Homo sapiens: one gene and its partners. The protein of the gene in region 7 purifies or fractionates together with the protein of the main gene of each other region. This does not show direct contact. Each region holds a gene or a part of one and is shown on either strand. Other genes may lie near its edges.

The links.
Region 1: the proteins of GALNT16 (region 7) and PRKAR2B purify together in Homo sapiens (co-immunoprecipitation; one large-scale study listed by IntAct). This does not show direct contact.
Region 2: the proteins of GALNT16 (region 7) and PBXIP1 purify together in Homo sapiens (co-immunoprecipitation; one large-scale study listed by IntAct). This does not show direct contact.
Region 3: the proteins of GALNT16 (region 7) and RMND1 purify together in Homo sapiens (affinity purification with mass spectrometry; 2 studies listed by BioGRID and IntAct, with this or other methods). This does not show direct contact.
Region 4: the proteins of GALNT16 (region 7) and SAAL1 purify together in Homo sapiens (co-immunoprecipitation; 2 studies listed by BioGRID and IntAct, with this or other methods). This does not show direct contact.
Region 5: the proteins of GALNT16 (region 7) and ARHGAP17 purify together in Homo sapiens (affinity purification with mass spectrometry; 2 studies listed by BioGRID and IntAct, with this or other methods). This does not show direct contact.
Region 6: the proteins of GALNT16 (region 7) and IPO8 purify together in Homo sapiens (co-immunoprecipitation; 3 studies listed by BioGRID and IntAct, with this or other methods). This does not show direct contact.

The regions. Positions count from the first base shown.
Region 1 is NC_000007.14:107,159,705-107,162,311, reverse strand, and holds the end of PRKAR2B (cAMP-dependent protein kinase type II-beta regulatory subunit), read right to left. Parts: 3' UTR 501-2,607; downstream 1-500. UniProt on the Homo sapiens protein: Regulatory subunit of the cAMP-dependent protein kinases involved in cAMP signaling in cells. Type II regulatory chains mediate membrane association by binding to anchoring proteins, including the MAP2 kinase.
Region 2 is NC_000001.11:154,949,600-154,953,099, reverse strand, and holds part of PBXIP1 (pre-B-cell leukemia transcription factor-interacting protein 1), read left to right. Parts: intron 1-1,178; coding exon 1,179-1,305; intron 1,306-1,564; coding exon 1,565-1,629; intron 1,630-1,702; coding exon 1,703-1,868; intron 1,869-3,500. UniProt on the Homo sapiens protein: Regulator of pre-B-cell leukemia transcription factors (BPXs) function. Inhibits the binding of PBX1-HOX complex to DNA and blocks the transcriptional activity of E2A-PBX1.
Region 3 is NC_000006.12:151,404,262-151,407,126, reverse strand, and holds the end of RMND1 (required for meiotic nuclear division protein 1 homolog), read left to right. Parts: intron 1-1,290; coding exon 1,291-1,407; intron 1,408-1,859; coding exon 1,860-1,892; 3' UTR 1,893-2,365; downstream 2,366-2,865. UniProt on the Homo sapiens protein: Required for mitochondrial translation, possibly by coordinating the assembly or maintenance of the mitochondrial ribosome.
Region 4 is NC_000011.10:18,092,583-18,096,082, reverse strand, and holds part of SAAL1 (protein SAAL1), read left to right. Parts: intron 1-3,500. UniProt on the Homo sapiens protein: Plays a role in promoting the proliferation of synovial fibroblasts in response to pro-inflammatory stimuli.
Region 5 is NC_000016.10:25,005,370-25,008,869, forward strand, and holds part of ARHGAP17 (rho GTPase-activating protein 17), read right to left. Parts: intron 1-3,500. UniProt on the Homo sapiens protein: Rho GTPase-activating protein involved in the maintenance of tight junction by regulating the activity of CDC42, thereby playing a central role in apical polarity of epithelial cells.
Region 6 is NC_000012.12:30,685,870-30,689,369, reverse strand, and holds part of IPO8 (importin-8), read left to right. Parts: intron 1-3,479; exon of another isoform or gene 3,480-3,500. UniProt on the Homo sapiens protein: Involved in nuclear protein import, either by acting as autonomous nuclear transport receptor or as an adapter-like protein in association with the importin-beta subunit KPNB1.
Region 7 is NC_000014.9:69,322,658-69,326,157, forward strand, and holds part of GALNT16 (polypeptide N-acetylgalactosaminyltransferase 16), read left to right. Parts: intron 1-2,034; coding exon 2,035-2,133; intron 2,134-2,679; coding exon 2,680-2,747; intron 2,748-3,304; coding exon 3,305-3,370; intron 3,371-3,500. UniProt on the Homo sapiens protein: Catalyzes the initial reaction in O-linked oligosaccharide biosynthesis, the transfer of an N-acetyl-D-galactosamine residue to a serine or threonine residue on the protein receptor.

The DNA of each region.
Region 1 (2,607 bases), on a different chromosome or scaffold from region 7:
CAGCTAATTTTTGTATTTTTAATAGAGACGGGGTTTCACTATATTGGCCAGGATGGTCTCGATCTCTTGACCTCGTGATCCTCCTGCCTCAGCCTCCCAAAGTCCTGGGATTACAGGCATGAGCCATGGTGCCGGCCTTTTAAAGCATTTTAAATGGCATTTAGCCAGAGTTTATAATACTAATCCTAATGGTAACACATATACATTCACCTAAGTTGTGTCACAGGTAACGTGTATGTTAAAATATCTGCACTAAGCCCTAGTACATATGGATATGTAGAAAACAATACACACACACATACATACACACACACACACACACACACACACACCTTTATTTAAAATAAGGGAAAGCACCGTCACTCTTGGGGAAAAAGTCCTCACCCCTTTCCTTAGCCACGCATGATACACGAGAGGCTCTGTCCTTGAATGAATGGTCAACAGAGAATTCTCACATAGTAAGGAGTGTTGATTAATAATTAAATAATGACATCCACAAGTCAAACTTGAGCTGTTTTAATCAGATAATTTTACACATAAATTCCTAGTTAGCCAGATTGATTTGGTTATTCTAAATGGCCAAATAAATCTGCAACACACCACAATTATTTCTCCCACACATGATGAATAGCTAATAATTTTAAAAACCTATTGCCATACAGAACCATACTTTCTTACTATGTTATGCCCTGGGGGTTCGCTTCCACATGCCACATTGCTATCATGCTTTTCAATGAATTATGCATTATGCACGTCAGAAAACTTTAAAGAAACAAGCAAAAAAGTATGAAAAACAATAATTCATGTATTTTATTATAAAAGTGTGCTTTATTGTAAGGAAAATTTAAATATAACCAACAATACTGAAAATAATGTACGTGGCATTTATAGCCTTGGTCAAAGTTCTTTATTAAACAGGCGTTTGCTGTTCCATGAATAGTTAACAATTAGTTTATGCAACAAAATAGATAACTTGAAAAAGTGAGTAAGAATACAGAATGATGAACCAGGAATCTGGAGTTCTTTTGTGTTTTTTCTTGTTTAACAGACATGGCTTTTAAAATAAAATCTGAAATATAAAACAAGTCATCTTCATGTAGAGAGCTCTCTTTTCCTACAAGAAGGTTTTGCAAAAATGTTAAACAGTGTTCTAAAAATGTGGCTGAAGTTATACTTTACATACTTTAACTTCTTATATATACATTATCCAATTAACATTCTAACCACATTTTCATATACAAGTGGGACCATAAACATTCTCTAGTAAGACTACACTAGCACAGAGTAATTTTACCCATGTATATATATTCATTTGAAACCTGTTTCCCAAAATGAAATCACTCATTTAAAAGCAAACAACTGGTTAGAATTAATGTCTCTAGACACTGGGTCATGGGGCCTAGAAATCATGTAAGAGTATATTGCTTTGGTTGAATATAATTAAATTCATCTTATGTGGCAGCATACTGAGCATATCAATGAACAATGAAAATCTAGTACATCTGAGTTCTTTCTGCACTAATTTCAACTATGAGTCTACATTAAAGCAATGGCAAGGCCTAATGGTATATATGGTAAGGTCAGAAATTCATTTTGTCTTTATATAGGGTTATGCTCATAAAAATTTGTTTCTATTCCTCTAGAGGATGTTTTTAAGAATTAAAAAAACCAAACAAACCCATATTGGCTGCTGATCAATGAGATTGTGGGTTGGCAACCATCCTAAGAAAGAACGGAAACCCAAGGGAACAGATGTCTACATAGGACTGTATTATGCAGGCCTAGTGAAGAACAAAGAAATAAACTGTGGGCATGCTGATAAGGATCCCACATTATTTTTGGGATAGGAGAGATTTTTTAGGTGTAAAATCTTAAAGAATACAAAAAATGTCGGATCTTAAGTTTAAATCACTTTTTAAAAAAACAAAACTTTGTGACATTAAATGTCAAGATCAAATTTTTAAAGACATAGAATACAGAGAATTGCAAAATAAAAAAAAGCAGATATATGCTTGATGAGGGAAAAATGCATTAATGATCTCTCATCTAAAACACTGTTTTCCTTATTATCATAATGACTAAATTGCCTGTCCATAAAACCACTGGAATATGTATGTTACTGACATTATGCCAACAAAGTCAAAATGTACTTTATTGCAAAAATATAAAAAGTTTTAAAACTGCATATGATATTTTATACCATTTCACCAATAGGCCAAGGCCAGCACATAACTTATCAAGCTAGAAAACTTTAAAACAAAAATGATTAAAATTTTACTGTGTTTAATGAGTTATAAAAAAAAGTGATGCCATGCTGTGTAGCATGTTTAATTGCCAAGTGCCCTCTTACATGGGGATAGTCACTAATATGATTATCAGTCTGAATAAGTAAAACACATATAGCCTATGATAACATCCTTTAATTATCTTCTTAAACACAGATACTTTCTATATATTACAATCATTTTAATAAACCTTTCAGTCATAATTTTGTGGAGTACAAAGTCATTTTATCAGTATGTTGATTTTTTTATGAACTACTCTTTAGAAAGTGATGTTAAAGCCTATTGACTATTAAATCACTACTGTTTATTGATACGTTGTAAA
Region 2 (3,500 bases), on a different chromosome or scaffold from region 7:
CAGGTAGCAGCTGGTGGGGCAGAAGCCCACTGAGGAGGGAGAAGGGGGTTGGCAGGATGGGGAACTGAGTGGCTAGAGAAGGGATGGCAAAAATTTGTCAAAGGCATCTCTGAGAGTTCCAAGACGTAGCGACTTTGTATATTAGAGCCACCAGGAGGGGAGGAGGAGAGAAGCTCAGTTTCAACATGTTGAGTTTGAGGTGCCCTTGAGGAACCCAGCTGGGAGTAAGGAGTTGACCTTGGGGATGACGCTGGAGCAAGATAATGGACTGGGGCTCACTGGCAGAGGGAAGGCAGGTATGAGCAGACGGGCACCAGGCTCTCAGAGCCCTGGCCTCCTGTTGAGGTGTCTTTGTTGACAGCTGGGGGACCTTGGGCATGCCATTTCACCTCTCTGTCCTCTCCTGTAAAACGGGCGTCATGATTTTTGCCTTGTAGGGGGGACCATGAGAATAAAAATGTTTTGAAAATAGCAAAGACATAACTAAGGTGAAGCATTACTCTCAGAGGGATAGTTGGAGCCACGGGGCGGGTGGCAGGCCAGGGCCCTATGGAAGGGGAGTAGGCAGAGGGAGGAGGCCGAGGCTGTGTGGCCAGGGCTGGATGTCCAGGCTGAGAGTGCCCTGGAGACAGGCTGTCTGTGGTTGGGGTGGGTTGGGCTTCTGTGAGCAGCTGCTGGGAGACGGGTGTCGGGGGAGTGTCAGGGGCCAGCGGGAAAGGCCAGAAAGGCTTGAGAGATGTAAGTAGTTGTCCAGTTGAGAGGGCAGCTGCAGGGACACCCTGGGAGGCATAACTGTGACCCGTGGGCACCCAGGGGACTTTGTTCTCTTGCCTTCTTCCCACCCTTAATATTATAATATCTGGGTTGTTCATCTGTGGGGAAGGAAGTGCTGCTGATCTTGATGGGAGGGAAACGTAGGCTCTAGCTCACCTTCTGGAGGCGGGGCACCAGGTTTGTACTGCAACCAGTGCCTTGGTCTGGTGGTGCGGCGCTGTGTAGCGGAAACCTGGCCCCTGAAAGTTCCTCCTCGCAGTGAGTGAGGCTGGGGAATGCCGAGCACTTGGTGCTGCCCCGAGCCCCTTTTTGGGCCAGCTCATGACTGAATGTGTGTGTTTCTGGGATGTGGGCTGGGGCCCCATTCTTGGGTGCAGCCCTTCTCCTTGCACTTCTCCTCCCAGAGCCTGCCAGTGGAGACACTGGGCCCGGCATCCAGGATGGACCCAGAATCTGAGAGAGCCCTGCAGGCCCCTCACAGCCCCTCCAAGACAGATGGGAAAGAATTAGCTGGGACCATGGATGGAGAAGGTACTGGGCCCTGCTTAGGACATAGCTTACCGGACAAAGCTATTCTCCATATTTTGGGGTTTCTCAGTTTCCTCAGAGAAAGGGAGGCTGGTTCGTTTTAGTTCCTCCATTAATCTCAGTTGACAAACTCCTTTTCTCATTCCATCCTGGCTTTTTCCTGCCTCTTCCAACCTGGTAGGGGCCCGTGGGATGGACAGAGGGCTGCAAAGGAAATTCAGCTGGGGCAGTGGGTTTTTCTGCGCCTTTTCTCCTACCGCAGGGACGCTCTTCCAGACTGAAAGCCCTCAGTCTGGCAGCATTCTAACAGAGGAGACTGAGGTCAAGGTGAGGAGATTTGCTGTGGGAAGGAAGGGAGGCGGGGAGGGCTAGCAGCTGCTCACTGCTGCATCTGCATTAGGGCACCCTGGAAGGTGATGTTTGTGGTGTGGAGCCTCCTGGCCCAGGAGACACAGTAGTCCAGGGAGACCTGCAGGAGACCACCGTGGTGACAGGCCTGGGACCAGACACACAGGACCTGGAAGGCCAGAGCCCTCCACAGAGCCTGCCTTCAACCCCCAAAGCAGGTGAGAGTCTTCCTTGCCTCTCCTGTCACTCTCCTTCTAGAAGGTATGGGAGAGGGATCAGCCATCACTACTGAGCACATGCTGTGGTCCAGGCCCTAGGGCTGAGCAGCTTGGTGCTCTCCTTTCTCACCACTACCCCTGGGACGTTGAGGCCCAGAAAGGTTGAATGACTTGACCAAGGTCACACTGCTGGTAAGGGGCAGGGCCCACATCTGGTTGACTCTTTCCTCTCTGCCATGGGGACCTCCTCTTTTCTTGCTTCCAGAATTCAACCCTCATTTCTGGAGTCCCTTCCTTGTGCTGGCCCTGGGCCTGGGCAGAGGGAAGATGGTTGGTTACCGCCTATGTAAGCGGCAGATCAGACTGAGCCAAGGTGCATATCAGACCTAAGAGTGGTACAGAACTGTAATTAAGGTACTCCCAAAGGAAGGAGAGGCCATTCAGTCAGGGGACTGGTTGAGGGCAAGGGAGAGGCTGGGACAGTGAGAGGTGACATTTGAGTGGAGCCCTGAGCACAGAGTAGGCTTTTGGTACGTAGGGCAGGGAAAAGAGAATGTTTTAGGCCAAGGCTGCAGCATCAGCAAAGGAGTGGGGACCACCTGTCTTGTGCTAAGGAGCTCTGTTCCAGGCTTGTGGCAGAGGAGTGTAGGAATTGGTCCCTGTTGAGTGACAGGATGGAGGGCCTGGGGGCCATTTAGGAGGCAACTGCAGTGGTCAGGCAAAGATGATGCAGACCTGGGCCAGGCATGGTGGCTCGTGCCTATAATCCCAGCACTTTGGGAGGCTGAGGTAGGAGGATTGCTTGAGCCCAGGAATTCAAGACTGCAGTGAGCCATGGTCATCCCACTTCACTCTAGCCTGGGCAACAGAGGGAGACCCTGTCTCTAAAGGAAATAAAAATAGGCGGCAGGGTGCAGTGGCTCACGCCTGTAGTCCCAGCACTTTGAGAGGCCAAGGTGGGTGGATCACCTGAGGTCAGAAGTTTGAGACCAGCCTGGGCAACATGGTGAAACCCCGTCTCTATTAAAAATACAAAAATTAGCTCGGTGTGGTGGTGCACGCCTGTAGTCCCAGCTACTTCCCAGCTACCTGGGAAGCTGAGGCAGGAGAATCGCTTGAACCTGGGAGGCGGAGGTTGCAGTGAGCCAAGATTGTGCCACTGCACTCCAGCCTGGGTTACAGAGGTAGACTCTGCCTCAAAAAATAAAAATAAATAAAATAAAATAAAATAAAATAAAATAAATAAAAATAAAAATAGGCTGGGTGTGGTGGCTCACACCTGTAATCCTCACACTTTGGGAGGCACAGGCAGGAGGGGCTGGGCTAGGGTAACCCACCTAGGCCAGGCGTCTGTCCTAGCATCCTCCCCCAAAAGGAATGTTTCCTATTTACCCACACATCCTGACCCTCCCCTCTCCCACTATAGTCAGGGCGTCTTCCCAGTTCTTGGTTCACATCCCTTGTGCTAAGGTTTGGGCCAGGGCTGGCATACCTGTTCCACATGGTACATGAAACATACATGGTATCACCTGTGATTGATTGGTGTGGTCTGCCTGGAGCACTGTGTGGAAAAGGATTTAAAGAACATGCCAGGTGCCATGATCAGTTAACACTGTTCCAGGTATGGGAGGT
Region 3 (2,865 bases), on a different chromosome or scaffold from region 7:
GCTGGAGTGCAGTGGCATGATCTTGGCTCATTGCAGCCTTGACCACCTGAGCTCAAGCAATCCTCCCACCTCATCCCTGCCAAGTAGCTAGAACTACAGGCACACACCACCATGCCTGGCTAATTTTTTTGTAGAGACAGGGTTTCACTGTGTTGCCCAGGCTGGTCTCCAACTCCTGAGCTCAAGTGCGCCTCCTGCCTCAGCCTCCCAAAATGCTAGGATTACAGGCATAAGCCACCGAGCCCAGCCTAGTAAGGCAGTTTAATGCTATGTGCAAAAATCGTAACATGGTGCAGTTAACGCATTCCAATCAACCCCTGAACACGTACCTGTGATTCATCTCTTAATGTTCACTGACCAAACCTGTAACTTCAGCATACCCATGAGACAAACTGTTTTAAAATTTTGCTTTCAGGATTTCCAGTAGCAAGTGATATATAAAGATATTAGGTAGGTATTTAACAGTTATCACATCCAGGCCTGGCACGGTGGCTCACGCCTGTAATCCCAGCACTTTGGGAGGCCGAGGCGGGCGGATCACAAGGTCAGGAGATCGAGACCATCCTGGCTAACATCATCTCTACTAAAAATACAAAAATTAGCCGGGCGTGGTGGCGGGCACCTGTAGTCCCAGCTATTTGGGAGGCTGAGGCAGGAGAATGGCGTGATCCCAGGAGGCAGAGCTTGCAGTGAGCCGAGATCCGCCATTACACTCCGGCCTGGGCGACAGAGGGAGACTCCATCCCAAAAAACAACAACAACAACAAAAAAAAAAGTTGTCACATCCAAATTTTGAATTCAGGGACTTTATTTTCTTTGAACCCCCACAGCCAGCTTGTTTGGAGGCATCGGAATGCAGAACTGTTGCAGTTCAGTTGAAAGCAATGCCATCTAGTGGTGTGTGTACAGCAGGTCAAATGTTAAGCGTAGATTTTCTAGTAGAAAGTAAATTATCTTTAGGTCTTGCTAAAAAACATTATGTTTCAAGTTTGCCTCTTTTAACTGCTAAAAAGGGCAGCTACTAAAAACTAGGACTCAAAAACCTATTTTTAGTTCTTCCATCAAAATCTTACAAATAGAAGAGCTTCAGTATGCAAAGTATTTCTTGCAGTTAAATTTGTACATTACAAAATGTCTCTGGACGGATTCACAAGAAACTGATAATGTTGGTGGCTGCCTTTGGGGAGAGGACTGAGGAGCAGGATTTTTCACTGTATAGCTATAGAATTTTTATGTGTATGACCGTATTAAATTGTTTAAATACATGTTACTGAAATTTTTCTTACATAGGTCATGAATGAAAAACTTCAGCACTGCATGGAACTAACAGATCTAATGCGGAATCACCTGAATGAGAAGAGGGCACTCCGCTTGGAGTGGATGATTGTCATCCTCATTACCATAGAGGTAAGATGGAAATGCTCTGTACTATGATCAGTTACCATCTTTTCACAAATACAGGGGCTATGCTAATAAGATAGTTTGAGATAGAAAATTATTAGCAGAAAAGAGGCTGACTTTGTTATCATTACTAACTCTATTTGGAAGTTTCAAATTACTATTTGCAAATGCATTAAAAGTAATTCTTGAAAAGGTTCCACTTTTTAAAATTTGAGAGTAGACCTCAAGGTTCTGCTTTTAAAGACAGCATTTGGAAAAAGTTCTAGCTGTAAATTTATAATGTACAGCTCAACATCAAATCAAGCACCCGTACCTCCAATTCATAGGTTGCCACGTGAGAAAGGGCAAACATTTACCTTACTTCAGGAGCATTTCTCATTAATCACAATCTTGGAAGTCATTTTAGTTTGTACCCATAATTTGCCCGTCATGAAATAATTCTCACTTTCTATTCTAAGGTAATGTTTGAGCTGGGACGAGTATTTTTCTGATCAAGTGATAACCAAAGTGTCACTGCAAGAGATATTCAAGTTCTACAATCAAAAATTAAATGTTCGGCCCGGCGCGGTGCCTCATGCCTGTAATCCCAGCACTTTCGGAGGCCAAGAAGGGTGGCTTGAGATGAGATCAGGAGCTCAAGACAAGCCTGGCCAACATGGTGAAACCCCATCTCTACTAAAAATACCAAAATTAGCCAGGTGTGTTGGCACACGCCCGTCATCTCAGCTACTCAGGAGGCTGAGGCAGGAGAATCTCTTGAACTTGGGAGGCGGAGGTTGCAGTGAGCTAAGATCACACCACTGCACTCCAGCCAGGGCAACAGTGAGACTCAGTCTCAAAAATAAACAATAAAATAAATAAATAAATGTTCACTACTGGGTGATCATTTAATAGGTGTTTTTTTAATCAAGAAATTATCTTTTTCAGCCCAGTATATCGTGTGAATAAAATTATGAAGAATCTAGTGTTTGTATCTACATCACTGACAATTCAAAAGGTAAATATTTCAGTTAAGAACTTTGGAAAACTAGCATCTAGGAAATCTTGGCAAATCTTGGCAGATACTTCTTAAAGTCACAGGACTTAGGTTTTAGACACCACAACTTAACCTATCCCCAGGGAATCCCATCATGGCCCTGGCTAAGAGAATCATACAGGAACTGAAGTGTTTAAATCAATATATACAGGCCGGGCGCGGTGGCTCACGCCTGTAATCCCACTTTGGGAGGCCGAGGCGAGTGGATCACAAGGTCAGGAGATCGAGACCATCCTGGCTAACATTACACGGTGAAATCCCGTCTCTACTAAAAATACAAAAAATTAGCTGGGTGTGGTGGCAGGCGCCTGCAGTCCCAGCTACTCAGGAGGCTGAGGCAGGAGAATGGCATGAACCCGGGAGGCGGAGCTTGCAGTGAGCTGAGATCATGCCACTGCACTCCAGCCTGGGCATCAGAGAAAGACTCC
Region 4 (3,500 bases), on a different chromosome or scaffold from region 7:
AATCCACCATTGCTTGAAAACCATTCTAAACTCAGCCTGCTGCTTAAGACCTCTACTCTCTGAACCTAACTCATCTTTCCAGCATAAAATCTGGATAGCCAGGTAACCCTTCTGATTTAGCCAGACCTTTCTACTCCCTGTCTCATGCTGTCTCCGTGCCTCCCTTTGTGTGCCTTCTGTCCCCTCTCAGTATTTGCATCTGTTAATTCACAGTGGTACTTTTCCTTCCACACCTTCCCAAGTAAGTAAGTAAGCTTTCAGTAGTCATTGCTGTTAGTAAACTGCCAAGAACAATAGATAAAGACTAAAGGAGAGGCCTTTATATACTGTGCAGTGTACTGTGCTTTATTGCCAATTAAATTGCCATGTGCTATGCATATCATGGATTAGTAAATATCTGTTCAATAATTATAATTATGAAAAACTGCTGTTTACTGAATACCTGGTCTTACTACTATGAGGTATACTTTCAAAGAACTAAATCTTGGGTGAAGATATGTGTTCAGGGTCACACAGCTAGGAAAGAATGGAGCTGAGATTTCAGCCTAGGCCTGACTTCAGTATAACCACTGTACTGTATTTCCTCTCTTTCAGATTATAAAATGGAGAATTCCATAGTGTATTTTTACAAATTGAATGTTGAATTAGAATTCTTATTTAAGTAGAATGTTCTCTCTGAATTAGGGCCTGATTAACCGTTTTTTCCTTGATTCCTTATATTAATATAAGATTTGATGATTATGCTATTTTTATACTGAGTTTTTCTGTCTTAAATATATTTACTCACTACTAGTATATAAAGAAATAAGCTTATGTCAGGAATGGCACCTTTTAGGAATTAGTCATATTGTTGTATTATATCCGCTGGCCACCGTCTGCTGCCACAGTGATTCTCAGCCTTGGCTGCATGTTAGAATCACCTGGGACAGGGACTCTCAAACTTAAGCATGTCCCCGCATCACTAATTGCCGAGCCTCCCTCCAGAGTTTCTAGTCCAGTAGGTCCAGGATTCCTAATATGTTCCCAGGTGATGCTGGTGCTCTGGTGCATTGCCACACTCTGAGAAGCTTTACCCTAGGGAACTTTTGAAAATCTTGGTCAGGCCATACCCTAGATGAGTTAAAGCAGAATCTCCAAGTGTGAGACTCTGGGCAGCTTTTAAAGTTCCCCAGGTGATTCCAGTGAACAGCCAAGAAAAACTTGATCTTTGATTGGAAGTTCAGTTATTCCCTCTTTAGTTTATAAGGGAAATGTATGTGGTTTTTTTCTGCCCCTACTCACTCTTAATCTTTTCCCAACATTTGACCACCCACTTTTTATTGAAATTCCATTTCTATAGCTCCTGTGTCACCTCACTGTCGTCTCTGACCTCTTCAGTCACTCGTCTCTCACCTTTCATTGGCTTTTTTCTTTCTTCCTTTTTTATACTGTCCCGAATATGGACTTTTTCTAAGGTGTAGGCCCTGATCCTTTGTTCTCATTATATTCATTTTCCTAGTGAACTTATGTGTTCTTTACACCTTTAAGTTGCAACTCTGCCTGTAGGAGCAAAGCCTCGACTTCCCTTCTGATAACTGATGTCACATCTCCAACTTTGTTCAGGCATTCTCTGCTTGCACGCTCTACAGTTGTCCCTTGGTATACATGGGGGATGGTTGCAAGACATTCCCCCATACTGAAATCCACACATACTCAATTTAGCAGTCAGCTCTGTGGAACCTGTGTGTATGAAAAGTCAGCTCTGCATATTGTGCAGGTTTTGCATCTTGAGGACACTGTATTTTCAGTCCAAGTTTGGTTAGAAAAAATCCACCTATGAGTGGACCCACACATTCAAACCTGTGTTCAAGGGTCAGCTGTACTCTCTAACCCTGAATTCTGTATGTCCTCAGTGATTTATGGTCACACTTATCTAATCATAAAAGTCACCTGGTATATGCTGGGTAAACAATAGCTTTCCAGGCTCTACCCTGGAAATTATGATTCAGTAGATCTGAGATGAGATTTGGAAATCTGTATTTTTAACAAGCTCCCTGAGTGATTCTTATGTTCCAGCAAGGTTGGAAACACTGTACCATCTGAACTCATTGTAGCCTTTTATGCACTTTCTTTTTTAGTTTTCCTGTCAACGGGACCAATATCACTGATGGGGAAATGAGGCAACTTGAAAGCTAGGAGTCAAGTTCAACTGCTTTCTCCTTTATCCTCACACTGGATTATTTTGCTTTCACCTTGAGAGTCTTCCTCAGCTTCATCCTTTTCCATGCCTGAGGGCCCTCCTCCTCTTGCATCTTGATAACTGAGGTGCAGTTTGGAATAGTGGTTAAATGCTCAAGCTCTGGAGCTCTGCCGTGTTCTAGTTGGAGATCTTAAGATCTTAGGCAAGTAGCTTAACTTCTCTGTGCCTTAGTTTCCTCATCTGAAAAAATGGGGATACTATTAGTACCTATCACCTAAGTTATTATATGAAATTATACACAGAAAATGCTTAGAGTAATGCCTGGCCACCGTGAGTGGTAATAAACTGTTATTACATATTAATTAACTATTACTGAGATAGATTCTTAAGTTCTTTTCAACTTCTTTTCCCTATACACTAGTCTCCCCTTATCCTTGGGGGTTGCATTCCAAGGCCCCCAATGCCTAAAACCGAGGATAGTACTGAACCCTATTTATAATATGCACAAATTTCCTTTTCCTTCTTCACAGTTTCATGGATAGATTTGTTCTTAGAGATCCTAAGCAACCTCAGCATACATTTTTGTTTGTTTTTCTTATGAAGTCAAGAACTTTTACCTTTTCATGTAAAGAAAGCACTTAATGGCGGCTCCTTGGCATATCCAAATTGCCAGCATCACTACTCTTGTGCTTTGGGGTCATTATTAAGTAAAATAAGGGTGACATGAACACAAGCCCTGTGAGATATCCCGATGGTCGATCTGATAGCCAAGATGGCTACTAAGTAACTAATGGGCAGGCAGCACATACAGTGTGGATATGTTGAACAAAAGAATGATTCACATCCTGGGTGAGACGGTGCAAGATTTCATCGTGCTGCTCAGAAAGGCATGCAATTTAAAACATGAATTGTTTATTTCTAGAATTTTCTATTTAGTACTTTTATACCAAGGTTGACCATGGGTAACTGAAACCATGGATAAAGAGGGACTACACTAATACATTATGCATTTCGCCACCAGAGTAATCTTCCTAAGATACTGTTTCAGTATGTTGTCTCCCCTCCTTGAGCATCTTCATGATTCCAAATAACTTCCCAGATTAAGTCTAATTCTTCAGCACGGCATTCAGAGCCCTTAATCTCAGTCCTTTATACCTGCAGTATTTACCTCATGCTGTTCACCCACTTTGTGCCACAACCAGAGTACTTTATTGTCTACAGTATTCGCCATGTACATGATTCCCTTCCTGCCTTTGCTGATACTTTCCCCTTATTTGAATGTCTGTCTTTTTGTTTGCATATCTCATTCCTATCAATCATT
Region 5 (3,500 bases), on a different chromosome or scaffold from region 7:
GAATGTGCAAGGTTTCATCACTGTATCTGTTGAGGAACATATCTATGAACAAGAATGCTAACTTGTTTATATTAAAGTACATAAATACATCAAAGAATGGCATTAAGATTTCATTAACAGCACCTAAGATCTGCTAGAATAGATAAAACTGGTTACATTCAGATTATCTGTTTGTAGCTCTGTCTCCACATTCAAGTCCCCAGGGATCAATTATATTTTTAACCCCAGCCCCTATCATTTGACAGGTTCTCAAGAGACATTTGTTGAACTAAATTGGTAACTGAGCAATGAAACTGATAACTAAACGTTAATTCCATGACAAACAAATGACACATACAGAGAAAACTCATATAAAGAAATACAAATGTAAGAACACATTCATTTTGAACTTAGTGGAAAAAATTTAAATAGATAACAAATTTTTTAAGGACAATATCTAATGCAACTAAGGTGATGGTGAAATGTGATATTCATCATGTCATGCATAATGACACACATTATTGCGCAACATCACTTTCTGCACTACAAACTAAATGACGGCATTATCATCTTAGGAGACAACCTGGCAATACTGTCATGATATAAACATTAATTTCCTATAAATCTAGTGATTCTAACCTCTAGAGAATTCATCATGAAAAAGTAATTTAGAGGTGAGCAGCTATAATCATTAAAATGGTGACCGACCATGTCAAACAGAAGGTTGGGGAATTGTAGATACAATCCAGCTCAAGCCAGCTCAAGGCAGCAAAGCCAACTGGAAGACAAATTTGACTCCAAGTGAAAAATAATGAGCACCTAATTAAGGTAACAGGAAGGATGGCCTCTGGGAAGCAAAGATGAAGTCAACAGATAATCAAGGTCAGTTCCAGACCAGCCTGGCCAACATGGTGAAACTCTGTCTCTACTAAAAATTAAAAAAAAAAAAAAATTAGCCGGACATGGTGGTGTGCGCCTGTAGTCCCAGCTACTCAGGAGGCTGAGACAGGAGAATCGCTTGAACCCGGGAGACAGAGGTTGCAGTGAGCCGAGATCATGCCACTGCACTCCAGACTGAGTGACAGAGAGGGACTCCGTCTCAAAAAAAAAAAAAAAAAGAAAAAGATAATCAAAGAGGCAGAATTTCCAGTCTCCTCACCTGACTGAGATGATGGAGGAAAAAGAATGGGACTGACAGGTGACTAGGGAGGGTGTGAGGGCATTTAATGCCCTAGGGCAGGGGTCACATGCTTCTTATGAAGTGCCAGAGGATAAATACCATAGGCGTTGCAGGCCATATGGGTCACTGTTGCAACTATTCAACCCTGCCACTGTAGTGAGTGGCTGTGTTCCAGTAAACTTTTTCACAAAGCAAGCGGTGGGCTGGATTTACCCTGCAGGCCAAAGTCTCGTGACTCACAGACTAGAAGATAGAGGGAAATGAAGCCAATTTGAGGAAGAAGTTCATGGGTTCAATTTTATCAGGCCATGTCAGCAGAGATTTTTCAAGAGAGAGATGATAGCATCATTCTAGGGATAAAGAGACCCCAGGGCTGGAGGCATAAAACTGTCACCATGAGGTGATAGTTATGGGGCTGAGATCACCCAGGGGAACGGTCTGAGAAGAAAGGAGATCGAGGACATTTCTCTGTCGCAATATAACAGTGAATACCCAATGTTACTTCAGATCACTATGGCCCTGGAAAGGAATGAACATTACAATCTAACCTCTTTTAACTCCTACTTTTTAAAAAGAGGGCTCCTATTTTTGAAGTGGGGCTTTCAGTCCCTTTTCCAAGATAAATAAGTTTAAAGTTTCAAATTTACAGATGAAAATTTCCTAATGGCTAGAAAATAAGGCAATGCTAAAATAAAGTGCTTATCAACTTCTTTAGATTTTTATTATGAAATATTTTATGTGCAAAGAACATATAGTGTGTATGTAAAGCATAATGAATAACAATAAAGCAAATGCACCCATCCATATCTCAAGAAAGTAGTTCATTACGAATGCCACTGACAAATTACTTATTTAGAGACAGGGTCTCACTCCATCACCCAGGCTGGAGCACGGTGGCAGGATCACAGTTCACTGCAGCCTCGACCTCCCAGGCTCAAGCGATCCTCCCACCTGAGCCTCCCAAGTAGCTGGGGACTACATGCACATGCTACCATGCCTGGCTAAACTTTTTGCGTGTGTAGAGACAGGATCTTGCTATGTTGCTCAGGCTGGTCTCAAACTCCTGGTCTCAAGTGATCCTCCCACCTCAGCCTCCCAAAATGCTGAGATTACAAGCATGGGCCACTGCACCCGGCTCACTGACAACTTTTCATACCACAAGCATTAGTCTCTAAACTACAAATGAAAGCAGGCAGCCCACAGCCAGATAATGCTTTCAGATGTTTTCTTTGGCCAACAGTGGGTTTTTTTCTTTTTAGTTGCCAACATTTAAATATCAAGAAACTTCACATGAAAATCAGCATTCTGGAGTATCATCAAAAATGGAAGATGTAGCTTCACTACTCCCACGTTCACCATGGCAACAAGTGGCTAGAACTGAAGAGCAGCTCTCCCCTTTGAATGAACATGTATTCACCAGTTCACTGCAGTCCCCACATTCCCTACTGTCCTATACCCGCCTCCCATTTCACTTATTTATTTTACCCAACCTGGCACTTCGGTTTGTGACCCCTGCTTATGTGATTGTGGTTTCCAACCTTTGGGAATATGGGAAATATTATTTACAGTAAAAAAATTTAACAGACTCTCAATAGGTATATAACTAAAAGTAAGACAAGTCCACAATCCCTATCACCATTTTGTAATCCAAAAAGTTCTAAAAAACAAATCTTTTTTTGTAACTTATTTGGCAATAAAAGTTGACCTGAACTGATATTAAACTATGCATAATCTTCATGCATATCCATTCAGTGGGAATATATGTATATATATTTTGCTATACTAATGTTTGATTATGGGATTTTGTCCCAGACCCCACTGGAAGTATTACATAACAACAATATATGCATATTATTACTTTTAGAAAAATCTGAAAAATTCTGAATTCTAAAACTTATCTGGCCCAATGATTCCAGATAAGGGACTGTGGGCCTATTACACTTTTAATCCCTACCTTTAAGAAAATACAAACACAGCGAACAGATGAGAGTTTAACATTTTTACATGGATTTGTACTTCACTAGTTACTACAGCATCTACCTACACTTGAGAAACTGAAATAGAATGATAAAGGTGAAACATCCTGTGGTCTGACAAAAATGCACGGTGCACGTACTGACTGCAGCGCCCTAGGCCATAATCAAACTTGGAAGGTTTTGCCTCGTCCACTCTGCTACAAAGGCAATTCCATAATAGCGTAACATGCCGCTTACACATATAAAAATGATGCTAAATGAACATATCCTTTTATGGTTCAAATTTACAGATGAAAATTTTCTACTGGTTCATCATTTTTATGGTTTTAGAGTTCATTTCTTCCCCCCAGTAAAGAATGGATTTT
Region 6 (3,500 bases), on a different chromosome or scaffold from region 7:
ACATTTTGTTGAATGGAACCTATTTTAAAAACCTAAGTGTTTATAGGGCCATTGTAAAGTTCCTATGAAGCATTTAAGAAATAACATTTTAAAAGATCTTAAAACAAGTTTTTACATTAATGTCTTCCTTTAATGACATGGAAACATTAGAAAAACACAGTTTATAACTTACATTGTTCTTAATACACCCAAAGATGACTGCCATCAGCTTTGATGCGTGGCTCTCCAATTCTTTTTTTTATATTACACATGCTATTTTACAGTTTCCTTTTTTTCATTTAACCATGTACCCTTGAAGATTGCTCCAAGTCAGTGCATATAGATACTTCATTCTTTATAACAGCTGTGCAGTATTTCTTTATATAAGAATTACCATGGTTTACTTAAACGATTTGATATTGATGGACATTTCGCTTATTGTCTTTTTTTCATTGTTGATAGAAGCAATGCTAAATGAGTGTCATTTGATATGTATCTAGGTACTTGTGGGAGTGTTTTTATAGAATAAGTTATAACAAGGGGAAATGCTTGGCTAATGGATATTTATGACATTTAGAATTTAGAATCTTCTCACTAAGTTGCTTTTGCTTACATTTTCTACCAACAGTGCATTAGAATGCTAGGTTCCCCAAATCCTCACCAACTCTGTACAACTTAATGAAGTTTTGATGTAAAATGTAAACAGCATTGAAAGGCATTTTTTTCTTCATAATTTGTTTTTTCATAATTTAGATTTCAAATCCTAAATTTAAGTGGTATTTATAAATTTTCTGTTCTGTTTAATCTATTATTAAAATACAAGGATGCTCCAAGACACCTAGAAAGATAATTTATCTTTAGCATGACACTTAAAAAAGAATGTTGTGATTTTTGCTTTAAAAGAAAGCCTGTATAAAGCTGTAAAAAAAAAGTTATGCTAATGTTAAGTGGAAATACATCTGCAAAATACTTTTTCTCTTTTGCTTGTGGGCAATCTAAAGTGTTCTTGCTACCATCAAGCGTGCTCACTGGTGAATGTCCTTTCTTACCTTACTGTGAGTTTTCAAGAAACAGGAAAAAATTAAGTATTTTGATGTTGCCAAGCAAAACAAAAAAATTTGAATGTTTGGTCTGCTGCTTTTCTTTTGAGGTGTTGATAAGCATAATAGCATTATTAATATTATCATGTGCGGTGAAGGAAGCCTATCTTAAATTTAGGATAGTTATGATCTGGAATTTCAAATCACTTTTGTTTCTAATTTTTTACTTCTTACATCTGAAGAGACTCTTTAGTAAAATTTCTCTAATATATGTAAATTTAGGCTCAGAAATGTACTTTTTTCAGTGCATTTTGGAGTTGCTACGAGAAGGAGAGAGTAGTTTGGATTTAAAAGTGGTGGTTGAGAGGTATTAGACCTGAAGAGGTCATCAGTGGTGACAGATGTGGGACTGTCATTTAAAAAAATAGCATGGTTTTTGATTTCTATAAGTTTGCCTGCTCCTTGTTGTTTCTTTTTGTTTGTATTTCCAAAGGATGGACAGGGAGAAGATATAACAATTCATTCTGTGGTTATTTGTTTAGAGGTTATTTGTTAAGATTGACGTCAGCATTGCAGAGTGCAGAACCTAGAAATAAACAGAAAGATGCCTCTGATCAGTCCAGAAGCACTTTAAGAAGCTTTTATTAACATTCATGCATTTTATTTGTAGAAAGCTTTGTGGCTTGTGCTCAGAATCTATTTAATATTGTTTTGATAGAATTGACACATTTGTTGTCTAATCTAGCCTTTCACAGAGTAATAAGGGAGAGAAGGGGTACAAAATTACAATGAAAAACAGCAAGACTTAGAAACATCAACTCAAAAGCATGACATTCTGCCCACCGAGATAACAGTACTTTCTCCACTTTGAGGTTATGAAACCCAATTGATTCTGTAGTTGTGTCTCTGGGTCCAGAGCTTAAGTGATGATTCATTGTGCTGAAGGAGAAAAGTGTGTGTGTGTTTTTAGAAAGTTAATTTCAACTTATGATGCTTAAAATGGTGAGTGGATTTTGTAGGAAAACTGTCTTAGAGCAGCCATTTTTATCATAGAATCTGAAATACATTTATAAAATTCTACATTATAACTATCCTAAATTTAAGTGCCATTTGTAGATTTTCTGCTCTATTTAATCTATTATTAAAATACAAGGATGCTCTAAGACACCCAGACAGATACAGTAAATTTAATATTTCCTTTATGAATTGGATTAACATGATATTAGTCCTTTGTTTCTTAGTTCTGGCAAATGGTTTGTATTTAGGCACTTGAATTAAATGATTAAAGGGAAGTTTTCAGATTATTGGTTGATATGGTAACAGTTATCTTTGGTATTTTTCCTTTATCCTTAGTAATCCATAATTATCCATCATAGTAATTAAAATTTTCTTTTTAATATATTTTCAATTTTATTTTACCTCATTGTACATTTATTTAGGCATATACAAATTAGTCAGTGTGCCTTTTTTAAAGGCTGTCTCGTTTGATGCACCATAATTTTTAAATTATAACTTTTCATTTATAAAATTAATATTAATAGTATTTAATGACTAAATCATAAATAAGTCCATGATTTTACCGTGTCTGTATTTTTACTGTCTAAAGGTTGCTTTTCTTTGTTTTCAAGACTAGTTCTATAGGGATCAAAATGATTTTGTGACTAATATAGTTGATTTTTCTTTTTGCAAAGATTGATCCTGTGAAATCAGGCTGGGTGTTCATGCCTGTAATCCCAGCACTTTGGGAGGCTGAGGTGGGTGGATCACTTGAGCCCAGGAGTTCAAGACCAGCCTGGGCAGTATGGCGAAACCCTGTCTCTACAAAAATACAAAAAAATTAACTGGCGTGGTGGTGCACGCCTGTATTCCCAACTACTTGAGAGACTGAGGTGGGAGGATCACCTAAGCCCTGGAGGTGGAGGCTGCAGTGAGCTGTGATTGTGCCCCTGGACTCCAGCCTGGGCGATAGAGTGAGACCCTGTCTCAAAAAAACCCCTAAATCCTGTGAAATCAGTCTGAACTGCTGACAGGTTGGTTCATATCCTTAGATCATTCATTCATTATTTTTTGAATAGTCTATACATTTTTATGGAATGTGTACTCTTTGCCAGTCACTGTTACATAATATAATGACTATACCCGATAAAACATGGTACCTAGTCTAGAGCTTGTGTGGTCTGAATTAAAAACAAGTAAGGGAAAAAAGAAAACTCTAACACACATCCCCCTTTATATAATTTTTGTTTTCACCCAAATGAATTGAAATCATAGATGGAACAGTTTTTCAGAACTTTAGCTACTCAAAACTAATGAAAGAGGAGCTTACCAGATGTCAAGTTCATAATTTCACTAAATTTCTTTTAAGTTTTAGCTAATGTAGAATGTATTGGTGTATTCTTTATGGTATAGTGCTTTGACTACCCAATTTAGTTTTTTTTTTTTTTTTTTTTGACAGAGTCTTGCTCTGTTGCCCTGGCTGCA
Region 7 (3,500 bases):
GAGGTGGGTGGATCATTTGAGGTCAGGAGTTCAAGACCAGCCTGCCTATCATGGTGAAACCCTGTCTCTACTAAAATACAAAAATTAGCTGGGTGTGGTGGTGGGCACCTGTAATCTCAGCTACTCGGGAGGCTAAGGCAGGAGAATCTCTTGAACCTGGGAGGCAGAGGTTGCAGTGAGCCAAGATCGCAGTACCGTACTCCAGCCTGGGTGCCAGAGTAAGGCTCCGTCTCAAAAAAGAAAAAAGAAAGCTGAGGTGGCTCACGGGGTGTGTGTGTGTGTGTGTGTGTGTGTGTGTGTGTGTGTGTGTGTGTGTGTGTGTGTGCGCGCGCACGCGCGCACGCATGCACACGTGTAGGGAAGCAAAGGACGTGCTGGCTTTAGTGGGCAGGCCTCCTGCCATGGTGGGGCCAGTTTGCTGGTAGAAGCTGCTCTTCCTTGCAGCCCTGCAGGCTGTAGTGTCCGCTGGACTCCAAATTGTCAGGTTCATTTCTGGTCCAGCCTCAATCTAGGGAGCCCGCTCCAGGGGAGCAAAGGGACATAAACCACATAAGACAGGCCGAGGAGGATCACAGAGAAAACCCCATCAGCTCCAAACTCAAAACTCAGGGCTGGGACAAACCCCTTTAGAGGCTCCTGGCTCCTGGGAGCCAGATAAACCCCCATGCTAAGTAACATCAATCCCAGAGGCATGCATGCCGAAAGGGCTGGAGGGAGCCGGTGGGGAGGTCAAGTTCACCCTTCAGATGGGGTGTGGGTGGGTTTGCCCCCTTCAGGGAGACGTCACTGTCCCGATTCCCTCCTTTCTGGGCACCGGATGGTTGGGGGATCAGGACAGAGGACTGGGGCCCTGGAGGTCAGCACTGGGAGGGTGCACACTTAGGAGGTATTTGCTGCTCCCAGCACACCCCAGCTCAGCCGGCCAAGCTCACTCCCTCCCCCACAATTCATAGGCCCTTGAACAGCATGGTTTCTCAAGGGGTAGAAGGCAAATTTCCCTCCGCCACCACTACCCTACACCCCCTCTCAAGGAGAATTATTGCACAGCCTCTCAAGATTTCCCCCAGGGGGGTCCCAGGCTAGTGGGACTCCTGCCTGTCTGACCTGGTCTGCTCTGCAGGGCAGGAAACAGGCCTGGGAATTCGGGCTGTAAGCTGCTGTCAGTAGAATGAATGCCACAATGAAAAAACGGGCACTGGTGGAATAGTCAGAGAGCAATTGTAATAAAGAAGATTGCTATGAAAACCAGCAACGGAGGCCACCTTCCAGCACCCCAGGAGCTCAAATAAATGCATACGCAGAAACAACAGGGATGAAGTCTGGCAGGAATGAATTGTTTTCACTCCCTTTCTAGAGGAGAGGGAGCCAGTAGGCCAGAAAATGTGGTGTCTATGGATGGCTGGGGAGGGAGGAAGTGACGGGATAGGCCTTTGGTGTCTTAACAGAGGCTTGTTTCCTCCAGGGGACCCAGTACCCTGGGAGGAGTGAGACTGCTCCCCAGCTTGTTGTCTGCAGCAGGGCTGTCAGTGTTGGGCAGTGACAGGGAGGAATTCCCTGGCAGCCAGGGTAGGGGTGATTCCTCTGCAGATTCTACCAAATGTCCTGAGCTGGGAAGAGAGAAGGAAGAAACTCTAGGGTATCAGGACAAACAGAGGTAGTTTTCCCTCTCGCACATACCCCCCACCATACGACAGAGTGTGGTCAGGGCTGTATCCTGGGGCCTGGTGCAGTATCTGTATATACTAGGGAGCCCCCTCTGGGGGCTCTGAGATCTCTGGTAAAGAGCCCCCAGGCCTTGGAAGGTCTCCCAACCTGCTGCTTCCCTCCCAGGACCCCAGGATGGGTGGCATCGGGGTTCTGGGCCAGTGTGGGATGCAGCATGGGGGTGGAGGCGCGGGGCCTCTGGCCTGGCTGTTGGTGTGCCTTCTCTGCCTGGCAGAAGTATTCTCAGGCACAAGACTGGACAAAGAAAAACATTGACCTGCCCTGAGGATGCCCTCATGGCTGGCTCTGACCTCTGTGCTCCCTTCTCAGCTGCCCATCTGTGTCCTACTCCTCGGACCTGCCAGCCACCAGCGTCATCATCACCTTCCACAATGAGGCCCGTTCCACCCTGCTGCGCACAGTGAAGAGGTAAGTCCAGCCATGGGACTCTCATCTCAGTGGTGCTGGCAGGGGAGGACATTGGGATTGGGCGCTGTGGCCAGACAGCTTGAAGCCCAGCAGGTGCTGGAGGCTGAGTCCTGTACTTCTGAGAGGCTGAGACTGGTGAATCAGGGCCAGGAAGACCCCAGAAGTCAAACTGTTAGAGGAATGCGACAGTCAAACACCAGGTCAGATGTCCAGGACAAGGGCAGAAATGCAGGTGTCAGGAGCTGAGGGAGGCCGGGCTAGACAGGAGGCCTCAGGAGGGTGATGGAAGCCCAGCAGTGTCTGTCAGTGTCAGAGAGAGGTGGATTGGAGGTGGATTCTTCCTGCTAAGCCTGGGCTTGTGGTCAAGTTGAACTCCCATCTCCCCATTTCCTCAATGAACTTAGACAAGAATAGGATTCAGGTAGGAGCGCCCAGCATGCTGGCCCTGGAGCTGGGCGGCTGGGGAGTCCCACGGCCCCGGGAGTGGTAAAAATGGGAGGTGGTTCCTAAATCCAGGCTCTTTCTCTGTTTCCACTGCTACTGTAGTGTCCTGAACCGAACTCCTGCCAACTTGATCCAGGAGATCATTTTAGTGGATGACTTCAGCTCAGATCGTGAGTAGTCACCTTCCTTTTTGCAGCCCTCCATTCCGCCCTCGTCCCTGTTTCCCCAGAACACCAAGGCAAGCACCCTGAGGTTGTCCTGACCATCGCAGACACCTTTCTGCCCCCAGCAGGGATCCTGTCTTTTCTAGGACCCCTCCCTGGTCCTGTTCCCTGGTGTCAAAGGAGGGGAAAGAAGGGTGGGTGTTGCTTTGGATGGGACTCTAGTGAGATGATATTGTTTTTAAAAAGTAAAGAAAATCAACAGCATCCTTCATTATTACAACTGCCAAATGCAGATGATAGCTGGGCTGGTAGCCACCCCCAAGCGTGCTTTCTAGTGCTCCCTGAGGTGGAGTGGAGTACTGCCATAGGTACAGGCACTCCTCAGTCTGGCCTGAGAGTGGGGCAGGGCAACCCTTCGGCCAGTAGTGATGACCATACCTCTTCCCAATCCCCATCCCCAACCCTTTCCTGGGCTTAGTATGGGGCAATTTTCATGGCAGCCAAACCACTAGTGGCCTGATGCCCATGTCTAAATGAGCTTGCCTTCCTCTTTGCATCCTCAGCGGAAGACTGTCTACTCCTGACCAGGATCCCCAAGGTCAAGTGCCTGCGCAATGATCGGCGGGAAGGTGAGTCCTTGCACCCTGGGTCCCACCAAGGGCCCATCTTGGTGTCATCCTGTGCACTTCCCCACTCTCTCTTGGTGCCGTGGCACACCAAGCCAACATGGTCCTGCTGCATTCCTGATGGCTGAGACCA